Linked DNA regions of Homo sapiens. The protein of the gene in region 1 interacts with the protein of each later gene in a pairwise test. Each region holds a gene or a part of one and is shown in the gene's direction. Other genes may lie near its edges. The genes, in order: CD302 and CD53.

Region 1 (4,038 bases):
ACCATCTTGTGGATTTTTGTTTTGTTTTGATTTGTGTCTCTGCACTTTATTCTAAGTTATAATAAAAGGATGAAAAAATTTAGGTGAGTTATTTAAAAAGTAGGTAGGATAAGTGGATTGCAATTTTTTTCAAATTATATTACCTCTGCTATGCACTCATTTCATAATGAATTCAAAGCCTTAAATCATCTTAATCTATTGCTGCCACCTTTTCTTTCTTTCTTTTTTTTTTTTTCCGAGATGGAGTCTCACTCTGTCACCCAGGCTGGAGTGCGGTGGCGCAATCTCGGCTCACAGCAACCTCTACCTTCTGGGTTCAAGCAATTCTCCTGCCTCAGCCTCCCGAGTAGCTGGGATTACAGGCATGCGCCACCATGCCTGGCTAACTTTTGTATTTTTAGTAGAGATGGGGTTTCACCATGTTGGCCAGGCTGGTCTCAAACTCCTGGCCTCGTGATCTGCCCACCTCGGCCTCCCAAAGTGCTGGGATTACAGGTGTGAGCCACCGTGCCCGGCCTGATGCCACCTTTTCTGACTCTTGTGTATGGCACAGTTATGTTTCAGGGGAAATTATCTCAGATTAAATATTAGAGTATTTTAAAATAAATTTTGAGCTGGGCGTGGTGGCTCACGCCTGTAATCCCAGCACTTTGGGAGGCCGAGGCGGGTGGATCACGAGGTCAGGAGATCGAGACCATCCTGGCTAACACGGTGAAACCCTGTCTCTACTAAAAATACAAAAAATTAGCCGGGCGTGGTGGCAGGCACCTGTGGTCCCAGCTACTCAGGAGGCTGAGGCAGGAGAATGGCGTGAACCCAGGAGACAGAGCTTGCAGTGAGCTGAGATCGCGCCACTGCACTCCAGCCTGGGCGACAGAGCGAGACTCAGTCTCAAAATAAATAAATGAATAAATAAATAAATAAATAAATAAATAAATTAATTAATTTTGAAATGTTAATGTTTATTTTTCTTCCAATGAAAAAGTGAAATTTCAATTAGGTATTATTTCAGGACTTCTTTTACTGTTGAGAATCTTTTAACAATTTGCTTATGTGTTGAAAACTAGTTTTGCAGCAAGGTTACTTTCCATAATTTTTATTGTGCATATCAAGTATTTCATTCCTTCTGTGGGTTATTTAGTGTTTTTTTTTTTATTATTTTATTTTATTTTATTTTATTTTATTTTATTGTTTTGAGACAGGGCCTCACTCTGTCACCCAGGCTAGAGTGCAGTGGTGCAATCATGGCTCACTACAGCCTTGACCTGCTGGGCTCAAGTGATCCTCCCACCTCAGCCCCCTGAGTAGCTGGGACTACAGGTGCATGCCACCATGCCCTGCTAATTTTTTTTTTTTTTTTTTGTAGAGGTGGGGTCTCACTTTGTTGCCCAGGCTAGTCCCAAACTCCTGAGCTCAAGTGATCCTCCTACCTCAGCCTTCCAAAGCTCTGGGATTACAGGTGTGAACTGCCACGCCTGGCCTATTTTAGATTTTGAGAGCAAATCTTGAGACCAAATCTTTAAAAAATAGACCAGTGATGCCCAAAGAGAAAGGTACAGATTAACAATGGCACACCCCTTCTATGAATATACATTATAACAGCCCTTCTGAAGAGGGAAGTGATGGGACAATATGGAGATGGATGTCTTGAAAGCTAGATTGGGAAGAGTGATATGGAGAGGGGATGAGGTGTCAGAGTGCCTCAATTTATTTGGGATTCAGAGAGATCTTGAAGCTCAGAGTACAGCCACAGAATCTCTGGATTAGTCAGGGACTTGGAACAGCCACTCCCTCCTCCATACATTATAAATGTAATAAATAGCCCCTCTTCTTCATCTGTCTGTGCCACAGTTGCCCTTGCGGAAGTTATGTGACTACAACTCATATCTTAATGGGAGAGGAGCAAAGGTCTTATTATTGACAATGAAAATGAAAAAGAAGTCTTTCCCTTTTCCTTTGTTAACATTTAGAACAAGTATGTCCCAAGAATCACTTCCTCATGCTGTGCCTGTTTTTTTTTTCTTTTTTTAAAAAAAAGAGAGACAGAGAACTTATAAAGGAACAGAGAGTTCTATTAGATTTGACTGGTAATGCAAAGTATTCCTGTGGATATGACATTATCTTCTTTTAGCACATGATAATTTTAGGCAGAGGATCTATATAGAAACTTTTGGAGTTATGCTAAGTACAGCTTTTAAAATATTCATGAGGCTCCTGAATTTCTGTACGTATTAAAGAATTATAAAATTATAAAATCCCTAAGAGTCATTTAAGTGCATTATTAATAACAACCTATCATTCAGGACTGCTGTGAAGAAATAAGAGTAATAGGCCCTTTGCAGAGAGCTTAGTGGGCAGGTTTTTAATTATATTAGGATTATGGCAAAGATACTTAGCGTTGAAGACGACTTAGTTTAGTCTTTTGTTCATGAGGTGCATGAACGTCAACAATCTCCTCACAGGAGTTATCCAGCCTCTATTTGAGCACTGTTCTTCTCAAAGTAAAAATATATCTTTTGAGTAGTGCTTAAAACTTGTTTCTGGGGCACACACTCTGATCGGGGATCTATAGCATGAGAAAAGGGGTTCCATGTTGAATTAACTGGAGTTACTGCTAATGCTGAAATGAGCCTAAGGAGAAGGCAGTTGAAAGTTTTGGGGAAGTGAGTCAACAGTCTGTTTTCTATTTTTCTATACATACCCTGTTAAAAAAAAATTTTTTTTTGGTCTTGTCACATGCAGATGCTCCTCGACTTAGAATGGGGCTATATCCCAATAAACTTGTGAAGTCAAAAAATCGTAAGTTGTCCATTATTAAGTTCGGGACCATTTCTGTATTGCTAACTTAGTTATTCAGCAATGGTCTTTGAGTAGCTGGTTATCATTATCATCATCATAGTCATTCCCATACTGTGCAACACAGTAGCATTGTGTTTGCTCCTCCCTCTGTTTGCCTGAAATATCCATGTGACTTCTTTCCCTATCTTTTCAGACACACACACACACACACACACACACACACACACACACACACACAGAGTTGGTTCTCTGTTTCTCTGGAGAACCCTGACTAATACAATAACCAATAAGATAGTATGGAAATAAGACAGTGTGACAATCAAGGCTGGATTGTATGAAGCATTGCATATCCACCTTTGCCCTCCTTTGAATCACTCACTCTGGGGGAAGCTACCTGCCATGTCATAAGGACCCTCAAGCACCCCTGTGTAGAAGTCCACGTGGTGAGGAACTGTGGTGTCCTGCCCACAGCCAGCACCAGCTCACCACCCATATGAGTGAGGCTTCTTGAAGCTGACCTTTCAGCTCCAGTTCAGTGTTTAGATGGCTGCAGCCCTAGCCAGCATCTTCACTGTAACTTCATGGAGACCCCAAGCCAGAATCACCCAGACAAGCAACTGCTTCAGAATTCCTGACCCAGAGAAACTGTATATAATAAGTGTTTCTTGTTTTAAGCTGCTAATTTTTTACATAGCAATAGACCACAATACACCATCTAACATATTATTTTATGTATTTGTCTTCCTTTTGCATAACTGCGTCAACTAGAACATAAATTTCCAGGAGGGCAGGAATTTCTTTTCCTTTTTGTTCACTGTGGAATCTCAAGCACCTTGCACAATTTTTTAACAGCACCCCCTCAGATAGGTACTGTTATTCCCATTATACAGATGAGGAAACTGGGACACAGTAAGGTTAAATAACATGTCCACGATTGTGTAGTCAGAGCCAGACTTTTCTCCACAGTCTAATGGGCTTAACCAGAGTCCTGTATTGACCCACTTCTATGCATCCCTTCCAGTGTTATGTTCAAGACAGAAGGATAGTTATTATTGAGAGTAGTTAGATCTCAGACATGGTCTCTGCTGTCGTGGCGTTAACAATCATTTGGGAAAACAGGATGCATATCAGATAGCCGCTATATAAAGAAGGATCTAATGAGTGCTATGTAAACATGTATAGGCCATCAGAGGGTAACACATTTCCTTTTCCAAAGAAGAATGACTACCCATAGTTCTT
Region 2 (3,500 bases), on another chromosome or scaffold:
AATGAGAGCCAATAAATAGGAGCTGTCGCAACTGTCCAATCTGCTTACTTTTCAGGTAAAATGACTTGTCCAAAAATCATAAAATTACTTAATAGTTATTCAGAATGTCTTCTGATTCTCTATGGCATGCTCTTTCTTCTACATTATACTATAGTCCCTTTTCTAAGAGATTTTTTATTAAGTAAGCATCATTAGACTGTATTCTTCATTTACATAAATTCCTAGTGCATTTTAACATAAGCAAACATAAAAATACCACTTAATTGTAAATGTAATTGATCTTAAGCTACTATGCTAGCAAACTAAATACTTAACATATATTTTATTTTCCAAACCTTTTTGTTTGGCCTTTTCTATTTCAGGAGAACTAGATTGAGGAATAGGGGTAAGAAATGATTTTAATGCCTCATATCTTTTAAAACTTGTTAAAGTTTACTTGTTAAAGTAAATTTGAACTTATGGCTTACCTTATATCAGGAGCAAATAAAGGCATTCAAGAATTATTCCATAGTTTAGTCTTCTTAAAATAACTATTGTAGAATCTCAGTATTTATAACATAGAAGACAAATTGTAATGATTTTGAGATGAGAATCCCTTAGATCATTTATTTATTTCCCATCCCTTTAAAAAAATGACAAAATTCAGACTGATAAAAAGGTTGAAAAAATATTATGAAAAATTTCTAAATCCTTTTCACCCAGATTTCCAAAATATTAACATTTTACTTCATTTGTTTATTCTCTGGCTCTCTCATTTGACAGTAATTAGTAATTTGATTGATGCCCTTTCCCCTAAGAATGTTAGTGTATATTTCTACAAACAAATGCATTCTCTTATATAACTACTTTACAATGATCAAAACCAGGAAATTAACACTTATGCAATATAATTAACAATCTATGTACTTTATTCAGATTCCACCAATTACCTCTTTAATATTCTTTATAGCAAAAGGAAATTTCTAGTCACGCATTGCCTTCAACTGTCACTTTTGTCTCCTTTAGTCTGGAACACTTCCTGAATTTTTCTTGCCATTGATATTCTTGAAGAGTAAGGTCAGTTCTTTTTTAGAATGTTTCTCCATTTGGGTTTATCTGATGTTTCCTCATGATTAGATTCAGGTTATTTAAATTTTTGATAGGAATACCAACAAAGTGGCTTTTCTTATCCCACAAAGAGTCTTGCTTAATCTGAGCATAGCCAGCCTGCAGACACCATGGACAGGCCTCTAGCCGAGGGACCCCGTATGTAAAGTTCTGCATATTTCTACCTAGGAGGACGGAGAACCTCTGGTCTCTTGACTCTGTAACAGTGCTAACTGTTTTAGGTAACTGTTCCTGATTTACGAAGTAAGCTTATTAGAAGAGTCCCTGTCCCACCTCAGCTGTTATTAGTATCTTGCTAAGCTCCCACATGGGAGGAAGTGAGCTTCCAAGATCATCTGGATTTGTCTTTCTTCACTTTTTCTCTCCTCTTTTCTTCTTCCTTATTTCTCTCTTCTTCTATAAATCGCCAAATCCTCTCCCCTAACAGCGACCTAGAAGAAACAAAATTTTTATCAGATTACAATTTTAGGAAGGAATAAGATAACAGATATTCCTTGATTAGTTGATGGAGAGATGAATGGACACGAATACATGAGAGTTGATGCTTTGGCTTCGTTTTATTTTACCCCTACTTCTTCCTCTACAACTGCTTATTACTCTTCAAAAGGACGTACAGCGATAACTTTGATTGCACCTCAGCCACTGCTCACAGGAGTTCAAACGAGCTGATGAAAAATGGAAGGTCTTCTCCTGGATGCTCAACACATTGCACCAAATGAGTTGGGAAGTAATAGGCACAAAACCAGAGCCTGGGACGGTGGAAAGAGCATGGGCTTTGGAGGCTGAAAGAACTTGGCCTTCACCCTGCCTTTGATGATTCTTAGCTGGGTGACCTTGTGCCAGTCCTCGGCTTCTCTATTTGCAGAATGGGGCTAATGACACCTAAGTTGTCAGGCCGATTTGAGGATTATAAATAAGACATTTATGAGGAACTTAGTTATTTTGTGGGATTCAGTGAACTATCTATTATGTATCTCAGTTTGTTTGAGCAAGGCCTACATTTGGGAGCCCTCACTGGGGCAGATTTTCGCTCCTATTTAGAAAAACTTTTTCTTAATCACAGCCTCAATTGTCTTTGCTAAGGAACAAAGACTGCCACAGGCTCTGTGTAGGAAGGGATAGGGAGCCGTAATTACCTTGCGAATGCTCTTGTATGTAAATTGACAATCTGTATATAGAGAAATGTATATGGAGAAGTGTCTGGAAAGACGTTTGCCAAAATGCTAATGATGGTTATCTCTGGGAGGTGGGATTTCAGAAGATTTTATGCTTTCTTCTTTATACTTTTCTTTATTTTTTAAATGTAGAATTTTTTTTTAAAGAAAGCATGCTTACATTTGCTTTCTATTGCTGGATTTTTCAACTTTTTCTAATAGGTTTGAATGGAGTAAGAAATGTGTTCTAATAATATATATTCTCAATCTTAGCTTACAAAGGTGTTTCTCTACCAAACACTTCCATTCACTGAAAGAAAACAATTTATGCATCTTAAAGAAACTGTGCTTACATTTGCCTTTTATTGCTGGGATTTTCCAACATGTCTTAACAGAGTTCAGTGGAGAAAGAAATGTGTTCTAATAACGTATTCTCAATCTTAGCATACAAAGGTGTTTTTCTATTAAACGCTTTTCTTCACTGAAAGGAAGTCTTACAGAAACTGTACTTGCATTTATTTATTTATCTTTTATTACTGAAATTTAACATTTTCAATTTGTTCTAATAGGTACAAATGGAAAAAAAACATGTGCTTTTCTTTATTGTTTGATTTCTTTTTGTTTTTTTATTTTTTTTACAAATGGCACACGAAACCTCTTTTTAAAACGTATGAAACAAGCAAGGGATTATTCTTGCCCCGTGTATGTTTTATTCCTAAAAATCTGTTAGAAGCTAAGGGTTACCCTTAGGAATGGACTGGTAGGTAAGGTCTGAACTTGATCTTTCAGTGAGTTTTCACTGAATAAGGCAGATACACAGGGACTGAGCCATCCTGGAAATAGTATCTCATTTAGCCCTCAGAACAACCTCTGAGGTAAGTATTAATAACCCTATTTCAAAGATATAGTGAAAGACAGGTTAAGCAAGTTGCCCAAGGTCACACTTCTGATAAGTAGCACTAACAGAATTCAAAACTAGACCTGTCTGATTCCAAAGCTAGTGTTTATCAAACTGTGTTCCACAGAATACTATGTTATTTGACCTGTTAATAAGTGATCTGCAACATAAAACTAGGTTTGTAGTTATATAAACATATTTTTGTCTTAGAGACTCACAGTGCACATTAGCATATAACAGGTTTTTCTCTTACACTGTTTTTTTTTCTTTATCTTGGCTTTTGTTTGAGGAGCACTTACTAATATCTCATAAGCGTAATGGTCTATGTAGCACCAAAGCTG

The links.
Region 2: the proteins of CD302 (region 1) and CD53 interact in binary tests that used the Homo sapiens proteins (3 or more experiments, as listed by UniProt).

What each region holds. Positions count from the first base shown.
Region 1 is NC_000002.12:159,791,422-159,795,459, reverse strand, and holds part of CD302 (CD302 antigen isoform 1 precursor), read left to right. Parts: exon of another isoform or gene 1-270; intron 271-4,038.
Region 2 is NC_000001.11:110,876,148-110,879,647, forward strand, and holds part of CD53 (leukocyte surface antigen CD53), read left to right. Parts: exon of another isoform or gene 1-1,487; coding exon of another isoform or gene 1,488-1,538; intron 1,539-3,500. UniProt on the Homo sapiens protein: Structural component of specialized membrane microdomains known as tetraspanin-enriched microdomains (TERMs), which act as platforms for receptor clustering and signaling.